2 separate regions of the Homo sapiens genome follow, and region 1 is linked to region 2. The links come from fine-mapping of genetic effects on gene expression. A gene starts in region 2. The other region holds a variant in brackets. All regions are shown on one strand. Distances are between the middles of the regions.

Region 1 (15,860 bases), 64 kb before region 2:
ATGTTGGCAAACCATGTGGATGTGGCATTGGGGCAGTGACGGATATCTTGCACACTGAGCACCTATTATGTGCTAGACGCTGTGGGTAACATACATTATGGTCTTTCCTGCTGAAATCCATCTAGCACACAGTGGGCACATGTCAGAGCATGTCACCCCCCTGCCCAGTACTCCCCAGTGACTGCCACTGTGCTTAGAATCAAGTTCAAACTCCTTGTTATGGTCTGCAGTAATCTGAGCCTTCCCTGCTTCCATGCCATTTTATGTCATGCTTTCCTCTCTCACTCCCACTCCAGCGACATGAGCTTTCTTTCCGTTCTTTTTTTCTAGCTCAGGGCCTTTGCACGCACTGCATGCATTTCCCCAGCTATTTGCACGGCTGCTTCCTCATCATTCAGGTCTCAGCCCAAGTACTGCCCCCAAAGAGGAGGCTTCTCTGACCAGACAATCTAAATTATCCCACATTACCCCCTATTGCATCCTGCGTTCCACTTACTCTATAGTACTTACCATTACTTTATTTGTTGACTTGTATTTATTCAAGACACATTTATTGAAGGCCTACTATGTGCTGGGTGCTAAGCTAGGCCGTGACAAAACGGACAAATATCCCTGCCTCCAGGAAGCCTACGTTATGACACAGCAAGGCGGATGAGGAACAAATGCCATGCTTCTTGACTTTCCTTACCAGAAATGTCACCTGAAGTACCAGGACCTTGTTTGTCTTGTTCAGAGACCATTTTGGGAAGTGGTAATCACAGAGCTCAAGAAATTGTAGTTAAACGAAGAACTGAGCCCACATTTTATAAACAATTGCATTGAGGCATAGACAGGAAGTGGCTTTCAAGATTGCTCCGCTAGTAAAACAGCAGAGCCAGGATCTGAACCTTGCTCCTTCTGACGCTGAGGCTGGCCATCCATGCCGCCTGCCCGGCCCAGGCATCTTGCCAGGTGCCTTCCCCACTACTTCCTTCTCCTCAGCCCAATATCTAGGTCCTCCCCCACTCCCTACATCCCAGCTGGCTTATCCCGGGGCTGTTCTCTAGCATCCTGCTCTCAGTAGGGTGACTTGCTGTCTGCAACACGTTGGGTAACATCCTTTGACTCTTTGAGCCCCAGTTTCCTCGTCAAAATGAGAATATGAGCCACAGTAGATCTGCTAAGGCACATACAATTCTATTATCCTGGCTTCTGACCAACCCCTCTGTAAATTACGTTCAATAAGAGGTGATAAATAAGAGGTTAAAAAATAATTTTGATTTCTGCAGTCCCAACTGAATAGCAATGACCCATGTAGTCTCAGCTGCTTCCTCCTCTCAGACCAGTATTCCCAGCCCTCCACTCTGCTCACTCTATTGATCCAGGGCTAGAAGTCCCATTCAACTGGCTTCTGCAAAGAAGGGCGTTTATTGGCTTGTGTCACACATACCCAAGGAATGGGCTGGTCGCAGGCATGGCTGGATCTAGGAGCTCCAACTGTGTCATCAGCTCTTGGGCCTCACCTCCTTGCCTCTCTGTCTGGCTCTCCTTTCTCACAGTTTCATTCTAAAGCAGGCTTGCTTCCACATGGTATCCAGGTGGCTGCCAGCAGCCCCAAGAGCATGTCCTATCCTTTGAGTGTCTCTGGTGGAGCAAAATCTCTTCCCAGCAGCCGCAAGAGCATGTCCTATCCTTTGAGCATCTGTGGTGGAGCAAAATCTCTTCCCAGCAGCCCCAAAGAGTCATGGGACTAAGTGTCCTTGGCTCAGGTAGAATCATGTGCCCACCCTTAAAACCCACGGAAATAATCCCTGGTGGTCAGGGTTGGGGTCGACCCCACACAAACCACACGGGCTGAGAATGGAAGGGAGGCAGATCCCCAGAGGATTAGGATTCTGGGGTCCAAGCAAAAAGGGGAATGGAGGCTGGCCAGTGTCCCCTGCTGCTGCCACTAGGCACGCCTTTTCCTGTGGGAAATGACTACTTTTGCATGTTCGTCAAGGCCTAGCTCAAATATCACCTCCTCCCTGGTCCACAGAGCAGGAGCTAAAAGCCCTCAGCCCCTGAACTCTTTTTGAGCCGTTTTCACTTTCTCTTTGGTATTTTAGCTTTTAATGTGCACGAGCAGAAAGGGTCAAAATAGTCTGCCTTTGGGGTCAGAAAAGTTTGGGTTTGAATCTCATCGACGCTCTTCAGGGGTAAGGTGACCAAGGACAGGGCGCGGCTCCTTTCTAATCAGTCCTCCCTCCCGGACCTGCTCGGAGCATTCAGTGAGATGAAGTGAGCCCAGCCAGGGTTTATGGAGGACTTTTGATTTCTTCCATGCCAGGACCCATGTTTTGGTCCTCTCTGTGTCTTCAGCCCCAGTCGCAGGTACTAATAACGCAGATGTGTTGAATGAACAAACTCCTGGATTCCAGAACTTTGGGCATGCAGTGGAGTTTCCCCTTTCATGATGCTCAGATTCTAAAGTGAGCACTGCAGGTGGAAAACCATAGAGTCCAAGATGCTTGAAAAACCCTTAAAATGTGGCTTCAATACAGTACACAGTGTGTATGGATGGGACCCAGTGCAGTGATTCCTGCACCCATTGAGAGTTTGAGTACCATCAAGCTGGCCAAGGGCAAAAAGAGAAAAGTCTACATGCAAGCACTCAGTCATGCAAATGATTCTGCTTTTAAACTAACTATTGGGAGGGATAGGGAAGTGAGAAGGAAGAGGGAGACAAGAAAAGGGTAAATCCTAAATTTTAAATTGCCTGCAAGTTTCATTCCATTCGCTTTTTTTTTTTTTTTTTTTTTTGAGATGGAGTTTCACTTTTGTTGTCCAGGCTGGAGTGCAGTGGCACCATCTTGGCTCACTGCAAACTCCGCCTCCCAGGTTCAAGCGATTCTCCTGCCTCAGCCTCCCAAGTAGCTGGGATTATAGGTGTGCACCACCATGCCCAGCTAACTGTGTATTTTTAGTAGAGACCAGGTTTCACCATGTTGGTCAGGCTGGCCTTGAACTCCTGACCTCAAGTGATCCACCCACCTTGGCCTCCCAAAGTGCTGGGATTACAGGCATGAGCCACCATGCCCGGCCCCGTTCTGCTTTACTATGTAGCCTTTGTCATAGCTTTACTATGTGTGAGGAAGCTTTGTTGTGGGGAGAACAACTGTGATCATACACATAACTAAATGGAAGAGCCTGTATAGCAGGACATGGGGGCTCAGTGAACCCAGTGGGATTTGAACCCAAGTCTTGCTGATAGATGCATGGTTCCTGGAAAGCTGTAGAGGAGTTCTGGGCCTCTGCTGCCTGTGGGACCCACTGGTGGCCTCACCAAACTGGCTCTCACCCTCATGCCCTGAGACAGCAGTCACTGAGACTTAGGTTCTAAAACTGCAAGTGAAATTCAAGGGGTATACAACATGGTTCCCTTTTTTCAAGAATTTCAATTTTTAGTTTGGATTCGGGGGCACATGTGCAGATTTGTTACCTGGGCATATTGCATAATGGTGAGGTTTGGGGTACGACTGATCCCATCACCCAGGTACTGAGCTCATACCCAATAGGTGGTTTTTCAACACGTATCCCCTCCCTCCCCCCGTCTAGCCATCCCCAGTGTCTACTCCTGCCATCTTGGTGTCCATGAGTATCCAAAGATGTGGTCCTGTGGCTGCTGCCCCCTCTGTAACTCTATTGGTTGGAGAGCAGAATTCAGGAAAGCAAAGTTGACCCTGGCCCCCTTTCTGTAAGCCTTGGTGGCATAATTTCATTACCCAGGCAAGTACATAACCTTGATTACCTTCCTCATCTTGACCCCCACCTCCCAAACCCCATTCAGCCCTGTCTAGAACTTCTGGATACAGCACGTGGCCTTATTTTTCCAGGAACAAGGTTCATTGTTGTGCTTCTGCGGTGCCCACCACATGATTTCTGGGACAGCCTTGTCAACCCTCTGGGTGTGATCTCAGCCAGAATGTGTCACGATGGCAGACATGGGATGAAAGGAACTGGGAAGAAAGGAACTGGGATGTTCAAATGGTCCTAGACTCCACAGGTGCCCTCAGAGGCGAAGGGGCTTCCTGCTGAAGCCCAGACCCATCCCAGCAGCATTTGGACAGGACTGTCATTACTACTGAGGTCCCACTTTTGGTGACTGTGGGGTTCCAAAACGGTGCCTTTCCCTGGGCGAAGTCAGGCTGAGCTGGCACTGGCTCTTCGAGGAGCAGCCGAACCCCAAGTTTCCCGTGCTGACTCACGGAATAAGAGCCAGGGCCGTGGGCCACCTGCCTGGGGTCTGCCCTGGTTGTGCCACGAGGTCAGGAATTTGGGCAGGCTTTTAGCTCTCAGATCCCTCCGTAGCCGGAGTTCACAAAAACTTCGCTGCATCACTCCAGTGTCAGCTTTTGGTTTCTTGAGCAACTTCTCCTCCGCCACCAATTTGCTGATTCACTCAGTCTCTTCCTATTTAAATCCAAAGGGACAGAGCCTGATCAGCTCCATGACTTGAAACTCCTGGGTGGGGCTTTTTGTTCCAGCGTCCTCATAGGTCACCAAGCAGCCAATGGATGCGCTGCTCTTGAGTTCAGGGGACCCTTTTGACCAATCAGGGGGCATTCCTTGTTCAAGCGCAGCCTAAAGCCATTTCCCTCCCCCTGGGCCTCCTGATGGGATGGTTTCCCTTAGGAGGGCACTCAGGTGTGGCTGACACCATCACTCACAGATCAGGACCCAAACTCCGCCAGGAGGCTCTGCTCCTCCCCATCCACCCCAGCTCCTTGCTAAGCTTTGACAAGGTCAGTATAACTGACTGAGATCCAAGGGACAAATGCGCCCGTGTTTCATGGCTCCTGGAAGTGAGAGGGCTCAGCAGGAAGGCATTGGATTCACAGAGCAACATCATCAGCTCTGCAGCCAGGTCTCTGACTCCTACTCATTACCGCAGTGTCTACTGGAGTCTGACTTATCTCTTTTTATTTTTAATTTTAATATTTTAATTTTTTGTAGAGAAAGGGGTCTCGCTGTGTTGCCCAAGCTGATCTTGAACTCCTGGCCTAAAGCATCCTCCTGCCTCAGCCTCCCAAAACGCTGGGATTACAGGCACGAGCCACCACGGCCAGCCCATGACTTATCTTTAAATCCCAGTAGGTAGCCCAATGCCTGGCACTTGGTTGGCCCTCAGGATACTTTTCTTGGAGTAGCCATAAATAAGTGGGTGCCCCAGGGAGGTTGGGATGAGCAATACTGAGAAGTTTAAGGCACAGTTCTCCTGCCAAAGCGGTTGGTCTCTTTCCACCGTCACCTGGTTTCCCTGGATCAGCTATTACATCTCATTAATATCTTATATTTCATTTTCTTTGTAGTTCCCTTGCAATGTTTCCCAATGTGTGTCCTGTGGGACAATAGTTCAGTGGAATATTAATTAAGTATTATAGTGCAAAGGGATTCTGAGATCAAGTGAGTTTGGGAAATAGCAAGTTAAAGAAAAGGAAGCAGGTTTATTTGCTGAGGGACTTATCAGAGCCTTTCATGTGTTCATGGATGTTGTTACCATCCACAAAGGTAACAGGGGCTTTCGTGTTTCCCACACCTTTTTGACCTTGAAATCATTATTTTTTCCCCTTTGAGTATCTCACAGGACTAGTGTTCTGAGGAGCAGTACACTGAGAAATGGTCCTCTAGACAGAGAGGAAATGCTGTCTTCCCCCTTTATTGGCTATGTGGGATTCGTATAATTTGCTTATTTGTCGGATCCATTATTGCTGGGTGTGGGAGAGCAGGCATGTGTTAGACTGTCCATCTTCAGAGAGGTTTCCTGCTCTTCCTGTTCGTCCAGTAGTTATGGGCTGTGATTGTTATGGTGATAGCAGGGAGGCTGCAGACCCCAGAGGGGATTAGGCATATCTGTGTGTAAACTTTGGGCAATGTCTTTCTTTCAACTGGGCTTGAATCACAGCATTGCATACCCTAAGAAAACATCATGAGGTATATAAAGTTCCCATACTCCCATTAAGTGGCCTGGTTTTCGTCTTTAAGTATGGTGGGGCTGGTAGGAGTAGAACACGGGATGATGTATCACTTCTCCTGGGTTTCTCAACCTCAGCACGACTGACATTTGGATGGGATCATTGTTTGTGGGGTCTGTCCTGTGCCTTGTAGGATATTTGGCGGCATCCCTGGCTTCTACCCACTAGATGTCAGTAGCACGTATCATCCCTCCTGCCTCCCCATTGTGACAACCCAAAATGTAGGCAGACATTGCCAAGTGTCCTCTAGGGGACAAAATCCCTCTCCCATTGAGAACCACTGCTTTAAGAGAAGATTACCCAAAGTCTGTGCAAGGCTTTTGGAATACTCTTGGAAGGATTTTTATCATACTCTTGGAAGAAGGAAGTAGTGCTATCATGCTCAAAGCATGGTCTGAGAGCCTATAAGACGTGCCAGCTAATGAAACTCTCCCCTGGGGTGTTTTCGTAACTCATCCTTAAGGCTCGTATATCTGTTGAGTTTCTTGGTTGCAAGTTACAGAAAACCCAATCCAAAATGGTCTAAGCCAGAAAATGAATTTTTTGGCTGTGGTAACTGAAGAGTCCGACACAGTGCTAACTTTAGGCACAGCTGGATCCAGGTGCTTAAGCAGTGTTATCAAGAAACAAGAATTTTTCCAAATCTTTGCTCTGATTTCCTCATTATTGATATCATTCTCAGACAGGCTCTTCCCATGTGGCAGTGAGAAAGCTGCCAGCAGCTCCGGCCTACTCCTCACTAGAACAGATCTGGTGGAAAGGGAAAGCTTCTCTTCCCTCATGGTTTGAATGCAAGTCCTGGATCTGATTCCCATTGGCCTGGGATACTACGCTATTCTCATTAGCTGTGCCGGGTTCACACGCCTGTCCCTGGAGCCTGGGGAGGAGCCAACACCAACGGAACCATTTGGTGGGGAACAGGAGAGGAATGGTTCTTTAGAGGCAAACGGGGCAGTTACTTGAAGAGAGGTCAGCGGATGCTGGTCAGACAAGCACCTCTATTGCCTCATTCATAAAAATAACTAAACGACAGCCAATAACGGCAGCTCCCACTTGTCGAACATGAATTCTGTACCAGACCCTACCTATACTGCGTGATCGCTAATCACCACCAGCATCCTGAGAGGCAGCTGTTGTCAACCTATTTTACAGATGGGTAAGTGGAGTCTCAGAGGCAGATGAAATGACTTGGCTGAAGTCACAGAGTGGGGCAGTGGCTGAGCCACAGACCGGAGGCATCCTTTTACCTCCTCTAGGACACCCTCTGTAACTGACTTTCTTCCTGCTGCAATCCAAAAGGTCTCCCAAGGTCGCCTGTTGCTATTTTGGAAAGAGGTGGACAGATACTGGAGGGCCACTCTTCAGGCCACTGCCCAATCTTTTCTTGTCAATTTGATGTCAGCTTGTGCCAATCATCCCTGAAGGGCCATTCTGACACAGCAAGTAAGGGAAAGCTTGGCCGGCGTTTTCTGGTTTGGCTCTGTTCTGCCTGCTTGGTCCATTTTCCTCACCTCCGTTTTTGCCCGTTGCCGCTGTTTTTATCTTCCATCCCCCCAGGGAGCCTGCAGAGGGTGCATTAGTAATAAAGCTAACATTTCCAGAGAGAGAGAGAGATATCAAGGAATTTCCATGACATGATTTCATGAAGTTTTCTCAAATATCATATCAAGTAGACACTACTATTATCCCCATTTTACAGATGGAGCAACTGAGGCCTGGAGAGGCTAGAGGACTTGCCCAAGGTTGCCCAGCCAGCAGATGGGAGAACTGGTGTTTGAATCCAGGCAGGACCCATTGCTTTTATTACGGTACCAAAACTTCAGAAAATTGCAAACCAGTGGCCTGTGAGTCAAATCTGGCTAACAGATATATTTTGCTTGGCCCACATAGTATTTCAAAACCCATTTGAACTCATTGCCAATGTTTAAAAATTGAGAACCTGCACATCAAAAAACAAAATTTGTTCTTTTCTGCTTCTCTTGAAAAAAAAAAAATCAGAGAAGATTGGCACCACTGGGCCTACATTCCTGCCTGGCAGAGACCGGCTGGAGCTGCAGCTCAGTCCCAGGTGCCTGCTTTGGGTGGGGTGTGTTCCTCCAGCTGGATGCAGTCCCCACCACTCCCTAATACCTTCCCAGTGCTGAGGCCGGTGTCATTTGCTGTGGCTCACTGTGTGTGCTCTGCGGTGTCCCTTGCGCCCCTCCTGGCTTACCTGCCTGGCTCTGGAGGGCACATGGGCTTGCTGCTCCTCCCCCACATGCAGGAGCTCCCGCCAGCCTCTGACCACAGTGGTTTGGGGTTGCTGTAATCTCTCTCCACACATTCAGTGGAACGGTCTTCTGCTGGTGAAGGTCTGACTTAGGCACTAGAAGAGTTGGACAGAGCCCCAAATTTTCCTTTCCTCCAGTACCCCAATCCCACCCCCTCCCACACTTTGGTTTATTGGTCAGCAAAGGCCACTTTCTTGGCAGTGTTTGTCTTGGGTACACAACCACTTTTTCTTGCTCCCCGCAGAGCCCCCTAACGTTTTCTTCCTAATCCTCCTCAGGAGAACCATCACTCGGATTATCATGAAACCCGAGCGTGTGCGCATGAGGTGCGACCCTTTACAACCGGCGGACCATCTCGTTTCTGCCCAGTTCTGTTTGTTTAAACTCTTTGCTGGCAGGACCCCAGCGCAGGGGCAGAGTTCCATGGCGTTCACAGGCAGATGTTCTGGCCTGTTGCAGGGACCAACGTTAAAAGCCGGGGCAGGAGAGCTGGTGGCCGGAATCCAGGCCCTGGGGGCGGAGGGCACTTCACGGAGGAAGGAGAGGGAGTTCAGGGAGGGAGTTCAGGGAGGAGAGGGATTGGGGATGAAAACAACAGCTCACTGTCCTTTTGCAAATGGAATTTACAGGCCCCATTTCATGCATGAGAACACTGAGGCTTAGAGAGGTGGGGTTACTTGAACAAGGTCACAAGGCTGGTTAAAGTAGGGAAAATAAATGAAATATTTTACAGTTCATGGCATAAGAATACGCCAGTTTCAGGCATGTAGATGATGATGATGGTGGTGGTGGAGATAATGATAATGATGATGACAGGAACTGAAGGGCACAATTAAGGCCTTAAAGATCTCCTGGATGTGGTCACTGTAACCTGTCAAGGCATGACCTGGAATCTTTTACAGCATGGCTTCTCTCCTAGAATCACAGAGTGGCCAAGAGTGAGGACGTTGACACTACACAGACC[T/C]GGGGCAGACCCGGCCCTGCTGCTGAGTGGTTGACTGGCCCCAGGTGAGTTCTGTAACTTCCATGAGCCTCAGGGTCCTCATCTGCAAGATGGGAGGAAAGAGGAGATCACAGGAATTTTGTGAGGAATAAATAAAAGAATGTATAGAAAGCACAGAGCCTGTGTCTGGCATGCAAGACTTGTTGAGTAAATGTTAACTTTTCCTGTTTTACTGTGAAGTGGCAACATGAGGTCCTGCACACAGCCAGGGTTCAGTGAATATGGCTAAGCCCAGAGTCCTTATTGGGAGAAAGTGGCCAGAAACCAGGCTCAAACTCCAGTGCCTCAACTTCCTAAGCGTATGCAGCTTGAAAGAACATTACACCCCCTCAAAGGGGGTAAAGTCAGTGTGGGGGATGACACTTCCCTTCAGGTTTGCTGGGGGATGAGACGCTGCCTGTAAAGTGCTCAGCACATAGTAGGTGCACAACAAAGTTATTGTTCATGTTGAGAACTAGTCTCATGCCCAGACTGGGCTCACCTCAGAGGGGTCACACACATTCCTTTTCTTCTGGGAAATCAAGGTGAACTGGATGAATGGCTCAGCACCTTCTCACATGCAGACCTGCTGGGAGTGGGAGGTGGACCTACGGGGTTCTGCACCATCTGGAGCTCATTTCATGGACAGAAAGGAAACAGAAAGGCAGGCACGCTCTCCTGAGGGCCTACTATGTCCAGATGCTTTGCTTAAACAGAGAATATTTATTTCTCAGTCACAAACTCAGGTGTGCAAAAATGCAACTTTGTGTCCAGAACGCAGTTAACTCTGGTTTCCCACCCACTCCATGTGCCTCACCACAGGCTGCTTAATCCAGTTCTCTTCTGGCTGGAACTCAGGGATTTAAGCTCTGATTTGGGTTTGTAATTCAGGTTTCCTCCTCCCTCTCTGGGTGGTGGAGGTGGGATGCGGGGGATGGGGGGCTCTCTTCTGGCTCTGCCCCTTCTCTCCAGCCTGGCTCCCTGGGTCTGATGACTGCTCTACCAAACGGTGGCCTTGACCTCTGTCTGGTGCTGGCCCTGGAGCCCCGTGAGATGTCAGCCTGGATGTAGTGGGAGGTCTGCAGGAGCCCCGCTCAGGAAATGCGGATCCCTTGAGGCCCTCTGCAGGTTTTCACAGGCGCTGACACCCAGCGCTTTCATCCTGTGTCCCAGGGTGGGAACATCTGCATCCCCATATTTCAGGAGTGCCGTTGCCTGTGCACCCACAAGAGGTCTCATCTTATCCTGGCAACAGCCTGTAGGGTTGGGAGCAGCTGCGAGCCATTTGTGCAGGAGTGCCCGGGGAGATGGTTACGTGCTTCATCATTCAAGCTTGCCCTCCCTCTCCTAGGTAGCACTGCCTTGAAACTACTCCTAGCAAGAAACACAGCTTCTGATCATGGGAGAACCTATTTGCATCACAGTTCACAAACATGCTTTTAGACACTCTCCACTTCAGTGGAGGAAACAGAGCCCCAGCGAGGGGAAGAGACTTACCCAAGTCACGTAGCTAAGAGGCAAAATCAGGATTCAGACTCAGCCTCCCAGCGCTCACTCCACAGTGCCTTGTTGGCCCAGCCCTAGAAGGCCTCCTGGCTGGAGGCCATTGCCTGAGCCTGGGGATGACACATATGTCCACTGGATGTCATGATTTCTCTACTGAAGCTAGCTGGACCTTCTTGGCAGTGACATAGGATTTTCCCCCTTCCTGGGGCAAAGCAGTCTCATATGGGACACTCAGGTGGTGGCTCTCCCTCCTTTTGGCTCAAAGACAGGAGGTAAGGCCTGCATCCTGTTTTCCTAGGGTGGGGAAAGTCTGCACACAGGTGGATCCACTCTTTCCTGGGGACCTGGGATCATTGCAGCCTTCTCCACCCCACAGGCCCCTCCACAGCCTCTGCCCAAATCCCCTTTCCCGGACTCCAAGTTGTATCACCTTAGTTAACGCTTCATTCCCCAGGTGTCTAAGAAAAAAATGTTCTCCCCATGCAGTTTCTCCACCTGGGAAACAGGCGGCCTTCTCTCTCTCTACGTCATCAAGTCAGTGCAGAGCGCATGGAGCAGCAACGCCCTGCCCAGCTCTGGGCTGCCCGCTGCGTGCTGAGGATCCAGAGACAAACCAGCCATGCTCCTGGCTGAGCGGAAGGTCCTCCCGAGCCTGCACAGTCTGAACTTGCTGAGGTGAGCGCTCTCTGCATTGAGATGACAGGGAAGGAAGCACAGGCATTTCTGGGGGAGTCACGGGGTCGGCCTTCGAGGCCTCTCAAAGTGCTGAGGCTTAAATGACAGGGCATGTGGAGCTGGAGCAGGAAGTGAAAGGCAGGGGTGGGCCTCCTTAAAGAAGAGCCCTGCGGCACTGCCATCCATCACCCACACCACCTTCAGCATCACCTCCCCACTAGGCCCTACCCCACCACCCCAAGGCAGTGGGGAGCCAGGCCAGGGCTCAGCACAAGAGAGCCTGGCCTCTTGTCCTTTGATTCTATTATCAGCAAATGACCTTGGGAAAGTCAGTTGACCTCTCTAAGCTTTCGTTTTCTCATATGCAAAGAGAGAACAACACTTAGGCAGTGCAATCATATATACAGAAAGTACTTTGGAACAAGCAAAAAATAAATAAATAAATAAAAACACTGATTTGGTGTTTGTCAATTGAATGTTTTGATAACATTTATCAAGATAATCTTCATTAAATATTCTAAGAGTGGGCCGGGTGTGGTGGCCGAGGCAGGCAGATCACCTGAGGTCAGGAGTTTGAGACCAGCCTGGCCAACATGGTGAAACCCCGTCTCTTCTAAAAACACGAAAATGAGCCGGGCGTGGTGGTGGGCACCTGTAGTCCCAGCTATTTGGGAGGCTGAGGCAGGAGAATTGCTTGAACCCAGGGGGCGGAGGTTGCAGTCAGCCGAGATCACACCACTGCACTCCAGCTTGGGTGACAGACCAACACTCCATCCCCACCACCCCATCTCCCCCAAAAAATATATATTCTAGGAATGAAGCCCGAATGGCCAATGGACATGCAAGGAATGGGGAAAGATCCAAATTAACCAATGGGGCACATTTGGCAATAACTACTGAGTCCTGATTTTATAAGCCGGAGGGAAAGAGCTTTATTCTTTACCAAATTTTAACTAGGGATGGCTCATGCCTGTAATCCCAGTGCTTTGAGAGGCTGAGGTGGGAGGGATTGCTTGAAGCCAGGAGTTAGAGACCAGCTGGGGTAACATATCGAGATCTTGTCTTGACAAAAAATTTTAAAAAATAGCCTGGAGTGGTAGTGTGTCCCTGTAGTCTCAGCCACACAGGTGGCTGAGGCGAGAGGATCACTTAAGCCCAGGAATTTGAGGTTACAGTGAGCTGTGATTGTGCCACTGCACTCCAACCTTGATGACATGGTGGGACCCTGTCTCTAAAAATAAAACAACAAAATAAAAAAAACTTTATCTAGTGCTGGGAAAGTGCAGTGAACAAGACAGGCAGCCAGCCAGACAGAAAGTATGTCCACCCTTTTCACATGCAGTCTCTCCTTCATCTTTCCATGAATCCAGTGAGGAAATGGGCTTGGAGAGGTAAAAATGAATTTTCAAAAACATATAGCACCAATAGCAGACAGGTGCTTCACAAAGAAAAAAAAAAAAACACAAAGCAAATAAATGTTAGCTACCATTTCATGACCACCATGAAAGGAAGAATTATTTAATTATTTTACCCCAGAGCCTACTTTTTCCCCCTTGCAGTCTCCCTAGGACTGAACTCTCTTTCATTGCACGTATACCTGTTGTATTCATTGGGATGCATTCTGCTGTAAGCAAATAGGATTAACCAGCTAACAGAGGCCTATACAATCAAGACATCTTTTTTTTTTAAACAGAGTCTTGCTCTGTTGCCAGGCTGGAGTGCAGTGCTGTGATCTCGGCTCACTGCAACCTCCGCCTCCTGGGTTCAAGCGATTCCTCTGCCTCAGCTTCCCGAGTAGCTGGGACTACAGGCCCACGTGACCATGCTTGGCTAATATTTTGTATTTTAGTAGAGACAGGGTTTCACCTTGTTGGCCAGGATGGTCTCGATCTCTTGACCTCGTGATCCACCTGCCTCGGTCTCCCAACCCAAAGTGCTGGGATTACAGGCATGGGCCATGGCACACAGCCAACATCTTATACTAGATATCTGCAGGCCGGCAGTCAATCCCAGGTTGGTCCAATGACTTGAAGTTAGCATCAAACTCTCTCTTTCTCTTTATTCTGCTGTCCTCAATGTATTTCCTTGAAGAGTCCAGACATATCCCCTCACAGTCAAGAGGCTACCACAGCTTGGATCATCATGTCTTCGGACGCTGTGTTCGAGGCAGAAAGTAGGGGCTCCTCATTTACTAAGAAGAACAGAGGTTCTGCAGAGTCCAGGCGTGTCTTTGACCAGAACTGGATTACATGACCATCTCTAGCTATAAGGAAAGGGAAAGGATCAGTCAATGAAGGGGAATGGGAGTGCCTGGCTTTCTTAGATCAAGCGTGCATCCCCTAGGGCACCTGCTAACACTTGGGGTTCTGTTAGCAAAGAGGAAGTGGGAGGCTGGCTGCTGGGGGCAGGAGGGGACCTAGGCAGCTCCCGGCCCCCATCTCCTCTCCAGATGGTTACATTCCAGAAATGAGGGAGGAAGTCTAATCCAGCACTTGGGGTAACACTGCTGTCATGGTTGCTCCTGATGGGAGGATGGGTGTGATCAACTGAGGAGTGGGGGTGTGGGGCTGAAGGTAGAGGGGGAGAATTGGAAACCTTGAGTAGCAGGGACTGTGTCAGGCATTCTCTGTGGCCCCAGGTGAGGCCAGACACAGCATGAGGGTTCAACAGGTGTTGGTTGCTTGAATGAATGAACGAACGAATGCAGGGACAGGGGCAGGACTCATCTGCTCTGTCACCTGGTGCTCTTAACCCCGCAGGGCCCCGATACATTCCTTCTAGAGCCTGGTTCCAGGAAAAATGTTGTCTCTGCCGAGGTCTGAACATGCTTTCTGTTGTTGGAAAATGAAAACTATGCAACCCCATGTGCTTCTCTTTCTGCCTTAGCTGCCAGAAGCCAGAGCCAAATGTGTCGCCCAAGTATGGGGGCTGCGCTCCCTGGTTTCTGAAGCACCACCTCGGCTTCCTTTGGGGAGCACTGTTCAGATTCACCTGCCTTGCGCCAGAATCTCTGGGCACCCCCATGCCTAGCCCAGGGCAGGAGCCAAGTCTGAAAGAAACTCAAGTGCTTGACAAGCTCATCCGGGAAAGCACAAAGCTGTCGGACCTGAGAAGGACGTCTTATCAAAGTCCACACTCTCCGATCTTAGAGGAGACGAAATAGGAGGGCAATGGCTTCCGTCAAGGCTGAAACCAAACATTTTGGCTATATCTGAACGACCACTGAATCACCGAGTCCACCGTATTTTTCCACTTTCAAGTTGTTTCTGGGCTGCTGTGGAGACACGCCCTTCCTGGGTTTAATGGCCCTCGTGTCAGGCTGTGGGGAGGAGGCGTGTTTACTTTTTGCAGGGAAAATAGTGGTTAATGGTGGACGGATGGACCTGATTAGTAATTGGGTGATTTATCCCATGAACGTTCTTTGGGTTTTCCCGGTGGTTTGCACTTGAATGTCGGCTGAATGAAGTAGGAGGAGGGACTAAGAGGAAGATGGTTTCGAGGAGAAAGGGGTGGGGTTGGCTCAGGGTTGAGGGCTGTTTCAGGGACAGGTGGAGGTTTGCGCAGATCAAGGGAGAAGGTTGTTCCATCTGTTGTCCAAGACTCTTCCTCTATGTTCATTCACTCACTCGCTTAATCGCTCACTCACTCATTCACTTATTGAAAGCTATGAAATTCTGAGCACCTTCTCTGTGCTGGGGATACAGCACACCTCATACCTCCTAAGTACCATGCAGCCAGTGTGATGAATAAGCTCTCTTTCTGCCATGGACTGAGCCTTGTGTCCCCGGCCAAATTCCCGTGTTGAAATCTAATTCCCAAAGTGATGGTATTTGGAGGTGGGGTCTTTGGGAGGTAAGTAGGTCTTGAAGGTGGATCCCTTGTGAATGGGATTAGTGCCCTTAAAAAAGAGACTGAAAAGAGCTCCCTGGCTCTCTTTCCACCATGTGAGGACACAAGAAGAAGTCAGCCTTAACCCAGAAGAGGGCCCTCACCAGAACCTGATCATGCTGGCACCGTGATTTCAGACTTCCAGCCTCCAGAACTGTGAGAAATACATTTCTATTATTTATAAGCCACCCGGTTTCTGGTATTTTGTTACAGCAGCCTGAGCTGGCGAAGATGCCCTCCTTTAGAGGAGCGTGCAGACTTGATAAGGGAAACAGATGGGCCAACAGATAATTCCCAGCAGAGGTGTGTTCAAACATGAGGTAATAACAGCTAACGCTTACTAGGCATTTTCCATGTACCAGACACGGTTCTAAGTGCTTTTCATGTATTAATCATTTGTTTCTCTCAACAGCCCTGGGGACTAGGTACTAAGCAGATGGAGGAACAGAGATGTAAGTAACTTACCCAAGATCACACAGCCAGCAGATCTGCACCGAGGCAGTGTGTCCAGCTTTTTATCGTCATGGTATCCAGGTCTACTTTGGA
Region 2 (15,860 bases):
TTTTTTTTGAGACGGAGTCTCACTCTGTCACCTAGGCTGGAATGCAGTGGCACAATCTCAGCTCATTGCAGCCCCTGCCTCCTGGGTTCAAGCAATTCTCCTGCCTCAGCCTCCCTAGTAATTGGGATTACAGGTGCATGCCACCATGCTGGGCTAATTTTTTGTAATTTTGGTAGAGACGGGGTTTCACCATGTTGGCCAGGCTGGTCTCGAACTCCTGACCTCAAGTGATTCGCCTGTCTTGGACTCCCAAAGTGCTGGGATTACAGGTGTGAGCCACTGTGCCTGGCCTATACCTTAATTTTTTTCACTTAACTACATATCTTTCAGGCTTTCCCATTTTAGCAGAAGGAAAGTATCAGTCCATGTGGGCAGTTAAAATACCTTAGACTGCATAATTTGTAAATATAGACATTTATTACTCACAGTTCTGGAGGCTTGGAAGTCCAAGATCAAGGCACCAGCAGATTCAGTGTCTGGTGAGCACTTATTCCTCATAAAAGGGAACTTCTAGCTGTGTCCTCACATGGTGGAAGGGGCAAACAGGCTCCTCAAGCCTCTATTATTAATATAATGGCACTAATCTCACTAATGAGGGGAGAATCCTCATGACCTAATCACCTCCGAAAGGCTCCAGCTCTTAACACTGTCACATTGAGTATTAGGTTCCAATATATGCATTTTGGGGGTCACCCATATTCACACCATAGTAGAAAGCTTCCTCATTCTCTTTTATAGCTACATGATTGTTCATTGTCTGGCTGTACCATAACTTATATAACCAGAGCCCTCCTGGTATCATTTGGGTTGCTTCCATTTTTTTGCTACTGCAAATAAAGCTGGGGTGAATAATCTTATACACATGTAATTTCATGTGTGGGCAAATGCAGCTGTGGGATAAATTCCTTGAAGCAGATTGTTGGGTCAAAGAGAAAATGCATTTGTAAATTTGATAGCTATCACCAAATAGAGATTTTAGGAACGTATACTTCCACCAGCAGAGTCAGAGGGTTGAATGCCGCATAATAGCCACACACTTAGCCAGAGCTAGTATCCTCTTACCACACTCCAGGGAGGAAGGAAAAGGCATGTGAGAAAGGAAGAGCTATTTATCCGATACCTGCTCTGTGCCAGACGCACTCTGTATACACACCCTACATACATTGTCTTCCTATAAGGCAAAGTGTGTTTCCCCGATTTTTATATGTGAGGAAACTGAGTCTCAGGTTAAGGAAATTTACACAACGTCTCAAGAAAGTAGAAGAGTCCTGAACCTATGGCTGGCTCTGAAGCCCGTGTTTGTTCCAGGGGGCCACGTCATGGTGCCAGGGAGAATATCTCAGCCGGGCTCTGGTGTTCCGCCAACGCTGTTTCTGTCAGCATTCATGAATGTGAACAGCGGACTTCATTTCCCAACTACTTTATTTTCTTGCCTGACTGGAACTTCAAGAGTCAGAGCTCTGCCCCGCTTAGAGAAATCTCTAGCAACCCCTCCCCACCTTTGTGCTCTCTCCCCAGGGCCCAGGCCCACTCCCACAAGTGACTTTTATATGTGGAGCAGTGCTCCTCCTGGTGTGGCTCTCCCAGAAGAGCATCCAGCCACAGTTCCAGGTCCCACGCTAGCTGCTCCAGCTGCTGCACCTCTTCCTCTAACTTCTCCGAGAAGACATGCAACTTCTCCTTCAGCCAGTTCCTGATGGTCTTTATCGGTTCTTCTGAGGGCTCGTTGGTCTGATATTCAAGCCCCTGGAAGGCAGACACAGAAGTGGCATCCTGTGCTTTCTCAGATAGGACCCTCCTCCCCATCCCCACTGGTTTCAAAAAGATCCCTGGGCCTTTGCACATGCTACTCATTGTGCTCGTAGTACCTGTTCCCACCTTCTGCACTTGACAAGCGACTACTTATCTTTCATGACCCATGTTGCCAATGACACCTCCTCTGGAAAGCCTTCCCAGATTGCCTCACCTCAGTACCTTGCTGGACATGTTACCTGGGGAACTGCAAGATTCTGGTAGTAGTTACATTCTCTGATCCTTTCTGACACCTCCCAACTGCTTCCTGAAACAGGCACAAACATCACCTCTGAAGAGCAAATGAGCACTAATTGAAATAAACATGGTTAGTTATCCCAGTGTGATGAAGGGTCAGTGGGAGAAGGTGGGTTATGGAGGTCCCCTTAACATACAACCATCTTTGGAACACTCCACCAAGCTTCATGTGGATTTGGTTCCTTCTTTCTCAGATTCCAGAATGCTCACCCCATATCTCTGTGCTCAAGTACAGCACCAAGATCAGCAATGCCAACAGCGTCTAGGGTGCAAGAAGAGGAAGAGGAGGAAGAACATGAGGATGAATTCTCTCCAGGTCCCCCTGCTTCCATCACAAAGGGCCAGACATGGGAATGCTTATAAGACAGTTTTTTGAGTTTAACTTTTGTTCTAGTTATCTAAGTCACACTTACTTACTACAAAACTCCCAAACTTTGAAGAAATAGATAACACTGCAACTTACTGATGTTCAATTTGCATTTTCTCTCATGTAAACATTTTTCATTTTAATTGATCTTGAAAAGGAATCAACTTCATTGTGGTATAATTTACATATAATAAAACGCACACATTTAAAATGTATAGTCTGATGAGTCTGATGAGTATTGATGAATGTCTATACCTGTAGACTATCACCCCAATCAAGATGTAGAGCATTTCCGTCATCTTAGAAAGTTTCCTTTTGCAGTCAATTCCATCCTCACTCCTGCCCTGCCTGGAGAGAACCATTAATCTGTTTTCTGTCACTGTGAGTAGTTTTGCCTGTTCCATAACCTTGTATAAGTGGAATTACACAGTGTGTGTGCTTTTGCATTTAGTTTCTTTTGCTTAAGACAATGTTTTCGAAATGCCTCTATTTTTTTGTGCTCAATTTTATTGATGAGTATATTGTGTATTTTATTGATGAGTATTTATTTTATATGAACATAGAATATTGCACAATCAGTCTCTTTACCTGTTGATGGACTTTTGGCTTGTTTCCAGTTTGGGGCTATTATGAATAAAAGTGCTATGAACACTCATATACAATTCCTTATGTGAACATATGTTCACATTTCTCTTGGGTTAATATTCAGAAATGCAAATGCTGGGTTATATGGTAAATGTATGTTTAATTTTATAAGAAACCACCAATGACTTTTCTTTACCCACTGAGCAACTATATGTGTCCCCATTTTTGTGGTAAATTGCATTAATTGTGTTTTAAATATTGAGCCAAATGAGCTTCTTCAGTAAACTCTAGTTGTTCATGATGCATTAGCTAGCCTTTTTATATATCATGTGATTTGATAAGCTACTATTTTGTTGAGATTTCTTACCTCTATATTCAGAAGAGATTGGTTTAAAATTGTTTCTAGGCCAGGCGCGGTGGCGCACGCCTGTAATCCTAACACTTTGGGAGGCCGTGGTGATCACCTGAGGTCAAGAGTTCGAAACCAGCCTGGCCAACATGGCGAAACCCCGTCTCTACTAAAAATGCAAAAATTAGCTGGCCATGGTGGCCGGTGCCTGTAATTCCAGCTACTCGGGAGGCTGAGGCAGGAGCATCGCTTGAGCCTGGGAGGCGGAGGTTGCAGTGAGCCAAGATTGCGCCACTGCACTCCAGTCTGGGTGACAGAGCAAGAATCTGTCTCAAAAAAAATTTTTTTTTCTACACGTTTGTCAAGTTTTGGTATCAAGATTTTGTTGCCCCCTTAAAATGAGTTGGTAAGAACTCCCTCCTCCTCTATTTTATGAAATAATTTGTGTAAGATTGGTATTATTTTCATCTCAAAGGATTGATAAAATTTATTGGTGAAAACTTTTGGGCCTGTAGTTATTAAGACTATTTCTTCTTGAGTCAATTTTGTAAGTTGTACTGCCAAGGAAGATTTGTCCATTTCACCTAAGTTAAATGTATTGGCATCAAATTGTTCCTAATATTACCTTAATATTCTTTTAATGCCTGTAAGAGTCATGATAATAATCCTCTTTTATTCTTTTTAAAAAATATATATAAAGAAAAGAGGTCAAGAGAGGAAACAAGAGACCTCTTTCATTCTTGATATTGGTAACTTGTGTTTTCTTTCTATGTATGTTTTTTGTTGAGTCTATTTAGAAGTTTTCCAATTCTTAATTTAATTTTACCAATTAAAAATGGTTATTAATTTTATTGTTTGTCTGCTTTACATTTCATTAATTTCTGATTTTGTCTTTATTATTTATTTCTTTATACTATTGAGTTTAATTCTTCTTTTTCTGCTAATGTGGAAATTTTGACCATGGCTTTTAAAGTTTTCTTGTTTTTCAAATATGTGTGTGTGTGTGTGTGTGTGTGTTTGTGTGTGTGTGCATATTGACTGACATTGAATTTTCCCCAAACTCACTAGATGTTGGCTGAGTCAGATCTAGTTTGCCTTAAAGAAAGAATAAATTTCTTACACACCCAAGTATGTGAAGTGACATTTAGACCCAGTACTAAACAAGGAAGATGAAAGATGTGTCTAACTTGCCTCTTCCCCAGATAATTTTCTTTATAATACTAGCAACTACATTACTATTAACTTAAAAAAAAAATGTTACATAGCAACAACTGGTTGAGTTTCACAGACACAATGATAAGAGAAAGAAGTCAGACACAAAGGTATACATGGTATGATTCCATTTACATGAAATTCAAGAACATAGAAAACTCAGCTATGATGACACAAATCAGAATCACTGCTATGAAGGGTGGGATGCCAGGTGGGCGGAGCCCCAAAAGAGCCTCCCTCAGTGCTAGAAATGTTCCATAGTTTGATCTGTGTGTACACCCAATGCAAAATCATCACACTGTACATGTAATATTAGGGTCCTTTTTCTTTTCTTAACAATATTCTTTAGGAATCTTTTCATGGAAGACACACACTAATTGTCACAATCTTTAAAATGGCTGATGAGTTTTCGTGGCCTGGAAGCTCTTCTATGTGTCTAACCAGTCCTCTATCAATGTATTTTACAGGTTGATTTCTTCCCCGGCATTCTTGCTGCTGGTTTCCATACTGTGCTGCATGGAGGCAAAGGGAGGAACATGGACTAGGATTGAGTTTGAGTCCTTTTCCTTGTGTCGTCTTGGGGCCTGAGCCAAATAATTTCTCTGAGCCTCAGTTTCTTCATCTGTAAAATGGATTTTGAAATACACTGCAAAGTCTTTCAAAAAAGAAGAAGTGGCTCACACCTGTAATCCCAGCACTTTGGGAGGCGGAGGCGGGTGGATCATGAGGTCAGGAGTTCGAGACCAGCCTGGCCAATATGGCGAAACCCTGTCTCTACTAAAAATACAAAAATTAACTGGGTGTGGTGGCGGGCGCCTGTAGTCCCAGCTGCTCGGGAGGCTGAGGCAGTAGAATCACTTGAACCCAGGAGGAGGAGGTTGCAGTGAGCCAAGATCGCACTGTTGTACTCCAGCCTGGTGACAGAGCGAGGCTCCGTCTCAGAAAAAAAAAAAAAAAAAAAAAAAAAAAAAAAAGGAAACAATGGGACTCTGGTAGAATCAAGGTGGGAAATGCTGTGGTAAACAAAGCTATGCAGACTTCTTTGTTGCAGGACTTCTCAGAGCCTTCCTTACGTGAATGAGCAGCGTCAGTCTTCAGGAGGGGATGCGGGTATGCAGCCTTCCCCAAGCCACAGAATTCTGTAAAGAATGTTTCTAAAAGGAGCATTCCTGGGGTCTGGTGTCTATGGAACACTTTTTAGGAAAAGCCGCAGCATGATGGGTGCCCATGAAGGCCCCTGTTATACGCTACAAGGTCCAGCATATAGAAGGCGCTCGGTGCATGTATAGTAAATTAATGAGTGAACAAGTCTTTTGAAAACAGAGACAGCAGAGCTCATTCATTCATTGCTCTGCTTAAAACCCGTCAACAGCTTCTTCTTATCCTCAGAATAAACCCTTGCTCAGGGTTCTCATAGCAGATGAACCTGGTTTCAGGGAGTTCTAAAATCAGATGGATGTGTTTTCAAATCCTGATATGTCCCAGTTGTACGGCCCTTTTGCCTTTCTGGGCCTCAGATTACCCTCTGTGAACGAGGTTGATAGCATCTAAGAGATGGGGTGTGGATGCACCAGGCTGTGTGCAGCAAGCATTAATGTTTTCCATTTTGACGAAATCCCACATGAGTTTTGAATTTCAGCCCTGAGAATGAATCCTCCAGGAGCGCTCCAATTCAGGAGTATTATCAGTTCATTCGTTCATTCAGCATCTACTTGGCACCAAGCACCATGCTAGGCACTAGGGATTCAGCAGGGAACTAAACAAAAAGCCCAGTCCTCCTGGAACATACCTTCTGCTGGCAGTGCTGAGAATTTAATAAGACAGTGTCAGTGATGGCCCCGGCAAGAAGTGCCTAGGCCCCTAAACTGTGCTCCATCAGAGTGGGATCCAGGGACGGTTGGGTCCAAGATTCATTCCGGGCTTTGAGGGACTTCTAGTCTGTCTGGAGTGGCAAAAGGAGCCCAGATGGGAGGAAAGCAGCATGTACCTGGCCTGGCCTCACCTGCTTCTCGTCATCACAGTGGCTGCCCCTTCTCCGTTCAAGCAGCTGGGCTGCCACCTGCTCTGCTGCCACCTGCCTTCTGCTGTCCACTTGCTGGGTTGCCATGGCCTCAGATCTGGCTGCCTGGGTGGACCACACTCAACAGACAGAAGGGCACCCTTCCCCTCCCCCACCTGTGGTCACCAGGCATCCTGCAAACATTGAGTTCTGATGTCACAGAAGGTAGGGACAGCAAGGTTCCCACCTTTCCACCACCCTGATTTTTAGTCCCTTCCCTCATTTTTATTTTTCACATGAGTGTAGAAAACAAAGATCAGGAAGAAATGCATCAAAAGATTATGTTTCAGGATGATGATTTTTCTGATTATTTTCTTCTATATTTGCAAGTTTTTAATAAAAATGCTAATTCTAAAATATAAAAACAATAGTTTGGGTGCAGTGGCTCACACCTGTAATCCCTAGCACTTTGGGAGGCTGAGGCTGGAGGATTGCTTGAGTCCAGAAGTTTGAGACTAGCCTGGGCAACATGGTGAGACCATGTCTCTATTTTTAAAAAATTACAAAAAAAAAAAAAACAATAAAAGCTATTTTTAATTGAAAAATGTATGGAGATAATTGTGGATTCACATGCAGTTGTAAGAAACAATACAGAGAGATCCTGTGTACCCTCTATGAATTTTTCCCCCAGTGGTACAGTAATATCCTGCCTCACTGCAGTAGGAGATCACAGCCTGGATGTGGACATTGATACACTCTACCAATCTTACGCAGACTTCCCCAGTGTTACTTGTTCTCATTTGTGTGTGTGTGTGTGTGTGTTTAATTCTAAACAATTTTGTGTAGGTTTGCTTACTTAGGACAATAGTCAAGACACAGAAGAGTTTCAAAACTACAAGGGGCTTTGTGCTGCTTCGTGATGGCTGCTGCCTCCCGACCCCACCCACACTGTCCTTAACTCCTGGAAATCACTCATCTGCTCTCTCTTTCTAAAATTTGTTTATTCCAAATGCTACATAAATGGAATGAAACAGTATTTAACCTTTGGGGATTGGCTTTAAAAAAAAACATAGTATAATTCCCTGGAAATTCATCCAATTTGTTGCATGTATCAGTAGTTCATTCTTTTTGACTGCTGTGTAGTATTTTGTGATATGTGTATGCCATAATGAAGGACACGTTCCAAACCTGTTCAAAACCCAGCTGCCTCCAGTTTTTGACTCTTGCGAGTAAAGGTGATATGAACATGCTTGTACATGTTTTTGGGTAAACGTAAGTTTCATTTGTCTGGGATAAATGCCTGAGAGTGCAGTTGCTGGGCCATAGCATCATGGCATGATAGTTTTATAAGAAATTGTCAAACTGTTTTCCAGAATGGCTGTGCCATTGTACATTCTCATTAACAGTGTATGAGTGATTTGGTTTCTCCTCATCCCCACCAATATCTGTTTACACTATTTGTTCTTTTTTTTTTTGAGACAGAGTCTCACTCTGTCGCCCAAGCTGGAGTGCAGTGGCACGATCTCGGCTCACTGCAAGCTCTGCCTCCCGGGTTCACGCCATCCTCCTGCCTCTGCCTCCCGAGTATCTGGGACTACAGGCACCCGCCACCACACCCGGCTAATTTTTTGTATTTTTAGTAGAGATGGGATTTCACCGTGTTAGCCAGGATGGTCTTGATCTCCTGACCTTGTGATCCGCTTGCCTCGGCCTCCCAAAGTGCTGGGATTACAGGCGTGAGCCACTGCACCCGGCTGTTTTCACTATTTTTTAATTTAACCATTTTGACAGGTGTTTAGTAACATCTCATTGTGGTTTTAATGTGTATTTCCCTGATAGCTAATGATGTTTAACATCTTTTCTTTTTTTTAAATTTTATTAAGCAATTTTTTATTATTTTGCTGGAGACAGTGTCTTGCTATGTTTCCCAGGCTGGTCTTGAACTTCTGGGCTCAAGCAATCCTCCCACCTCGGGCTCCCAAAGTGCTGCGATTACCGGTGTGAGCCACCATGCCCTGCCCGAACGTCTTTTCATATTAGCTTATTTGCCATCTGCACCCCTTCCTCAGTGGAACATTTGTTCCTGTCTTTTGCCCATTTACTAATTGGATTGGTTTTGCTACAGTTGAGTTTTGAGACAGTTCTTTGCTCATTTTAGATACTAGTCCTTCTTAGGATATATGGTTTGCAAATTATTTTCTCCCAGTCTGTGGCTTATCTTTTCAACTTCATCACATGGACTTTTGCAGATAAAATGTTTTATGTTTTGATCCAGTCTATCACTTTTTCTTTTATGAATTGTGCTCTTTCATGGCAAGTCTAAGAACTCTTCACCTAGCCCTAGGTTCCGAAGATTTTCTCCTATTTTTGTTTTTTTGGTTGTATAGCTTTACGCTTCACATTTCAGCCCATGATTCATTTGGAATCAATTTTTGTATAAAGTGTGGAGTTTAAGGTTAATTTTTTTGCTTATGGATGTCCAGTTGCTCCAGGACCATTTGTTCTGTATTCTGTTTCATTGATCTATGTATCTGTCCCTGCATCAATACCACACTGTCTTGACTGCTGTAGCTTTACGGTGAGCCTTAATAGCAAGTAGAGTGATTTTTCCCACTTTGTTTTTCTTTGTCAAGATTGTTTCAGCTCTCACAGGGCTTATGCCTTTCCATATAAACTTCATAACAAAATACTTTGCCAGCTGGGATTGTGATAGGAATTGCATCACACCTATGAATCACTTTGGGGAGAATTATCATATTTACTATGTGGTGTCTTCTATCCCAGGAACACAGTATGCTTCTTCATTTATTTAGGTCTTCCGTTTCATTTGTTTTTTAACCAGCACTTTGTAATTTTTGGCATATAGCTTTTGTACATGTTTTGTTAGGTATATACCTAAATATTTCATATTCTTTGGACTTTCCTTATACTTTAAAAGCCCCCATGTGCCAAACAAATTTCATGTGTTAAGAAATCATCAATGTTCCACATTTTGTGAATTAACTTTACCAAAGTTCCACATACAGAGCTCTGACTGGCACCCAGATAACTTACATACGGAGGCCGGCTATACACTAGGCATTTCACTAGATTACTTTACTACAGCTTCTCTAGGCTATTAATTCTGTGGGTAGTGGGGAATTAAATCTGTCTTACTAAACATTGCATTTCTGATGCCCCTTACGCAGCCCGTTACATAGTAAATGTTCAGTAAAAATACCTGTTGAAAGGATGAATAATGAACGGTCTCAAACTGCAGGCTCTGAGAGGCCAGGAACTTTGTCTGGTGAATACATTTTTGTATTCACAGTACTTGGCTCAGTAAATATTTGCCGAATGAGTAAAGCAGGTGGTATGATTTTTACGTTTTGAAGAAGCCGAGGTCCGGGGTGGCTAGGGAAGGGTATCGGAATTAGTGGGTGTCATGAACGAAGTACCTACTGTGCGCCTGACCCAGGGTAAGTCCCTTCCACACGTTATTTCATCTAATTCTCCTAACTGCCCGGCAAGGCCGGCACTGTTAGTTTCTGTTGGGAACGTTACTCTCCTTACCCAGTGGCACATACCCTGCCTTAGTATGGGTCTATTTAACTCCAACGTCTTCTCGTTTACCACAAGGAGTTAATGTAGTTTCAGCTAAAAACAAAGAAAGTGGCCATTCTTGTCTTTTGTGGCTTCACTGTCCGTAAGTAGATGTGAGATTTCCATTAGACTTTTTGAATATCCAACATAACCATCTTCCCTCCTGTCCTTCTGTGTCCAGAGTTTGTTCCTTTAGTGGCTTCACCGTCTCGCTGACTTCAAGAATGAAGCTGCAAACCCTCACGGTGAGTGTTACAGCTCTTGAAGGTGGTGGACCGAAAGAGTGAGCAGCAGCAAGATTTACTGTGAAGAGCGAAACAACAAAGCTTCCACAACCTAGAAAGGTACCTAAGCAGGTTGCCACTGCTGGCTGCAGAGGCCAGCTTTTATTCCCTTATTTGTCCCCGCCCACATCCTGCTGATTGGTCCATTTTACAGAGTGCTGATTGGGCCATTTACATCTTTTAACTAGACACAGAGCACTGACTGTGCATTTTTTACAGAGTGCTGATTGGTGCATTTACAATCCTTTAGCTAGACACAGAGTGCTGATTGGTGCTTTTACAATCCTCTAGCTAGACAGAAAATTTCTGGAAGTCCCCACTCGACCCAGGGAGTCCAGCTGGCCTCACCTCTCACTTCCAACTCCATGACTATCCCAGATTGGTGCGTGTGGCATTTCATGCAATCTCCACTCCTTTTTGCCTTTTCTGCATATCTTTATTATTATTACTAAAGCAGCTACGTTGTCTGGGATAAATATCCAGGGTTCGTCGTCTTATACCAGGTAAGTTTAGGACACGGACACACAAAATAGGCAAAAAGGGAGAAAGAAAAACAGCTCTAGAGACGGGGGGGGGCACTTCTCAGAGGAAAAGACCAGCCGGTGGTGGATGCACCAGAATTTTACAGTTAGGCTTGCGGAGGTGGTGTCTGATTTACATGGGGCTCACAGATTGGTTCCATGAGGTATGACAGTTACATAGCTGGGGAAGGCTAGCTGCCCCACCCTAATCTTATTATGCAAATGAACTTTCCCCTTAGCCGGGGCTGTCTTGTCTGCTCCTTAGTATACATGTGGCAGACAGAGAGAAGGGAAGACGGAGCCGCCATCTTGAACATGATTGGCACAACTGCAGCATCTATGTCTGCAGCTCGATTTTACAGGCTGTTCTTTGTCAGAAAGGAAAATAATTGGGGGCTGCTTTTCATTAAAAGGAAAACCTTACCGAGGACTTCTGCACCCTCACTATCTGACTAATTAGTTTCTTCTTAACTCCTGTATCATTACCATGTGCAACTAAGATATTTTGAGAGTTTTCTAAGTACTGGGCATTGTGCAAAGTGCTTTACATGCATTGGTTCACCATATAAATATTACAACTCTAGGTAGTAAATCATATTTTTGTCTCCATTTTACAGATGGGGAGACTGAAGCTTAGACTGAACACTTTTCCAAAGTTACTCAGCTGGTAAGAGGCAGGGCTGAGATTTGGACTCTACCATTCTTGTGACAGCACCCTGGCTCTTGGTGGCCGTTGGATACTGCTCCTTCCCTGGGAAGATTCAAGACCAGAGAAAGAAAGAGTCCAACCCAAGACAGTCCAAGGAAAGGTACCGAACTCAAGTCTCTTGCCTCCCACTTGAGGGCCCTCCAAAGGCCATTTGCATCATCTTGATGGTCTTGCAGGCACCCATGCAGTTGCTGGCTCTTGGGCTTTATCTGGTGGACACATTTGAAATGTCAAATGCAGGTACGTAAGGACTGCTCATTAAGCTAATTATGGCACATCAAAAGTAATGAATTATGGTCACAAAAAGTAATGAATTACAGTAAAAAAAATTACAGTCACACACAAAAAAAGTAATGAATTACAGTCACATTTTTCTAGGAAACATAATAAATTCTTCCAGGAAACTCCTTCGGAAGGCAGAGCTTCCAGGATTTGGTCTCAGGGCAGGGAGGAGAGGGAGGAAGAGCTTCCCCACCTGGCCCTCAGAGAACTGGCCCAGTAGCTGGTGTGGGCGGGGGACTGGCAGAGGGTCTAGTACAGCACTGGGTGCTTCACACTTCCTAGTAAAGGAAGAGGGAGAGGATGAGAAAGGAGAGAGAGGCCTTTGAAGGAGGGAATTAGGGAGCAAGTCAATGTGAGAATGAGTTGGCGGGGGCAGGGAATGAATGGAAATGTGTGAATGAATAAAGATTTCCAGGGGAATAACTAATCAGTCTTGAAAAATTACACTCTGCCAAGGGAGAAATCTGCCCCAAACCTAATAAGTGGAGACCAAGCAGTGCTTTGTGCTTGAGTCCTGTCTCCCAAACACACCTGGGTTCAAATCCTGGTATCATTGTAACATTCACTTGGGAAAGTGACATCATGTCTCTAAGTCTCAGTTATCTGAAAAGTGAGGCCAATAATAATAATATGTGTCTTACGGGGTTACTGGGAGCGCTAAACGAGATGAACTAACTGGATAGTGCCTGGCTCAAACTGGAACCTCAGGTAGTTTCTCTCTCTTCCCCCCTTCTCCCTCTCTCTCTCCTTCTTTTCCTCCCTCCCTCCCTCTCTCCTTCCTCTCCTCTCTCCCTCTCTCCCTGCCTTCCTCGCTTCATTCCCACTCCTGCCTCCTTTTCTCCTCCTCACTTCTCCAAGTATTTGATGGGCTGCCCCCATGCCAATTCAATTTAATTCTCCCAGTAATGTAAGATTGCAAAGAGTTTATATGAAAAGTCTATCCAGAAAACTGATAGAGATGACATAATTGGCAAGCCTGTACAGGAGTGGGTGGGGACTATGGAAGGAAGAGGACTGGATGGCTTCATAAAGGAGGAGGTGTTTTTGGCTAGCTGGAGGGGAGAAGAAAGGATGTCTGGGGAGACTGAGAATTATGGGAAAAGACCTCACAACCTGGGCCTGAAACCAGAACCCAGTCCTAGCCTGGGTCTGGTGCCTGCCTTTAGTCTACAGAATAAAGACTTGTATTTATAACAAACATTGCAAACTCAGATGCATACAGGTACTGAACAGTTAATAAAATGAGAGAAGTAGTCTGGGTGTGAAACGAAAGGGCATGGTGGGGACCATGGCAAAATCATAACACGTGTGTCCAGAAAGGCCAGCCAATTGTTGCATGAGAATGTGGGGTTCAGTGTGGTGAGAACTTCTGATTTATTTTCAAGAGAAGTAAGAAATTCAGTCTTTTGTATGAAACCTCCTGGCTTGTAAATGTTGGCAACAAATTCAACTTAGAAAAAAATTCACTTTGTGAGCCCAACGTACGCCATCAATTTGTGAACTCTCTTATTGTGTGTCTGCTGTGCTCAAACGAGGCTTGTCCCTAATCCTCGAAACAGCCCTGCTCTGTGGAGCTTGCTACCTGCTATGGCGAGCCACAGAAGCCCCTATGGCTAACTAAAATTGGAAACGGCCAGTCTTGGAGAGGAGAGAGGGACCTCCTGAATTTGATGGGAAGGCTGAAACTCCAGGGAGAAGAATAGCCGTTGGGACCATGGGCAGGGGCATACCACAGGCAGACACTGAACCAGAAAGGAATACTGGGGTAAATGTATACCCTGCGTGGTGGGATTCCAATGCCATGAAAGAATTCTAAATTCTCTTGGTGTCTGTGTTAGTTACTATGGCTTCTATAATGAATTATTACAAACTGGATGGTTTGAAACGACAGAAATTAATTTTTTGTAGTTCTGGAAACCATAAGTCTAAAGTCAGTAGCACTGGGCTGAACTCTCAAAGCATGCATCTGGCTGTGCTCCCTCAGGGGGAACCCATTCTTCAACTCTTCCAGCATCTGTGGCTGCCAGCATTCCTTAGCTTGTGGCTACAGCACTCCCATCTCTGCCTCCATGGTTACATTGCCTTATCCTCTTCTCTCTGTCTCTATCTGTGTGTGTGTGTGTGTGTGTGTGTGTGTGTGTGTGTGTGTGTGTGAAATTTTCCCATCTCCCTTTTATAAGGATTCATAGGATCATGCTGGGGCCCTTTGGATAATCCAGGAAAATCTCATCTTTTTTTTTTTTTTGAGATGGAGTCTCGCTCTGTCACCCAGGCTGGAGTGCAATGGCATGATCTCAGCTCACTTCAACCTCTGCCTCCCGGGTTCAAGCAATTCTCCTGCCTCAGCCTCCCAAGTAGCTGGGATTACAGGCACTTGCCATCATGCTTGGCAAATTTTTGTATTTTTGTAGACAGGGTTTCACCGTGTTGGCCAGGCTGGTCTTGAACTCCCGACCTTGGGTGATCCGCCCGCCTCGGCCTCCCGAAGTGCTAGGATTACAGGCATGAGCCACTGTGCCCAGCCAAATCTCCTTGTCTTAAAACCCTGCATTTGATGACATCTGCAAAGTCCTATTTTGCAATATGAGGTAATATTCACAGGTTCAAGGGATTAGGATGTGAGTATCTCTTGGGGGCTTTTCTCAGCCCACTACTGTGTCTTTGGGATGCTCCCTGCAGATTCAAAGCTCTGGGCAAGGACAGCTGCTAGGCTGAGGTAGGGAGGAGGCTGGAGGCTTCTGCTGCTCTTGAAGTGGGAGACAAGGCTGTGTCACCCCCAAGACTCATCTGATGGGTGATTACCTCCAGGAAAGGAGGGATGGAGCAGCTGAGTGTTGCCGCTCTCCCCTCCTCCATTCTGCACTGAGATGGAGACCTAGTTCTGAGAGGCTGGGGGATGTCCGAGCTCTCGGCCCCAGGAGGGCAGGTCTATCTCCCTCTCACAGTCCGTGGCACTCCAGAACTTAGCGCAGCACCTGCCACTGAGTAGAAGCTCAGTGTTTGTTCACAGCCTGCTGCCTCCAGGTTCTGTTCTCTCTCACTGTGGCAAGCAGAGGCTGGGAGGCCAGGCCAGCTGAGGGGCAAATGTACACATGAACACACAGCCTTGGCATAGGCTTGCCTGCTAGGGCCACAGGCCACACCAAAAATACCCTTCTGCATGCCCCGTAACCAGAGGGCTAAAGAACTGCGAACAGTGGACCAAAAAGGAAAAAAAAACAGGATTAATTTATGAGGCGTTCGGCTGCCTGGATGGCTCATTGCATACCCGCTCTGGCGATGCTGCTCTGTAATGTGCTTCTAGACTTACTGTACTTCGACATCCAGGGGCCCTTTTGTAACATGCCAAGTATTCCGCTGTTATTGTTCTAGGCACCTCCTGTTGGTCATTGGGCTAATTTATTACAGTCGGAATTTCAGGACCAGACACAACTCTTATTACTCACTGCTTCGGAGAGGGAATAAAAGAGCAATTGATATTTGGAAAAATGAAAAATATGTCCAGAATACTTTGGGCTCTGAGGCCAAGAAGGAAAAAAAAAAAAAGGAGGGGGAAGCTGGAGGGAAAAATAAGGCAGGCTCACCCCGTCATGCACTCTGTCGTGGCCTGTCTTGGAGACATGGAGTCTAGAATGTCTGCAGACAAATGAATCAACGGCAGGGCTCTGAGAATTCCTCAGGCACCTGGGCCCTTCCGCCCATGACTTCAGCTGCCACCTGCAGGAGCAGGACTGGAAAAGGTTGGAGTGTGAAGCGCCCCTCAATTAGTTGAGTGTGTTAAATTGGGTCTTGGGTTGGAGGGTGAGGGAGAAACCCCAGTGGGGTTGTTGAATTCCTCAGTTCGCTTGCTCCCGAATCCAAGACTCTTATGGAAAATTAACGTAGGAATAGAATTTTGAGACGTGACAGCCCAGATGCTTG

Direction of the effects. Positions count from the first base shown, and alleles are read on the strand shown. Sizes are in standard deviations (SD) of each study's normalised expression.
As copies of T replace C in region 1, the expression in lung of the gene that starts at base 6,724 in region 2 goes up (small effect, 0.26 SD a copy in GTEx).

Evidence for each region. PIP is the estimated chance that this variant, and not a neighbour inherited with it, causes the effect.
Region 1: its variant is fine-mapped to the expression of SMIM23 in lung (GTEx, PIP 0.93).

Annotation. Positions count from the first base shown.
Region 1 is chr5:171,841,072-171,856,931 of GRCh38, reverse strand. LOC107986476 (a long non-coding RNA gene) reads left to right here and starts at 8,814. Exons shown (of 3, transcript XR_007059052.1): 1 at 8,814-11,023; 2 at 11,238-11,426; 3 at 14,313-15,860. The variant T/C (reference allele first, on the strand shown) is at 9,228.
Region 2 is chr5:171,776,681-171,792,540 of GRCh38, reverse strand. SMIM23 (small integral membrane protein 23) reads right to left here and starts at 6,724. Exons shown (of 4, transcript NM_001289970.2): 1 at 6,565-6,724; 2 at 2,260-2,311; 3 at 1,992-2,059; 4 at 1,405-1,746. The coding sequence starts at 6,669. The coding sequence ends at 1,453. RefSeq lists an enhancer at 10,545-11,744.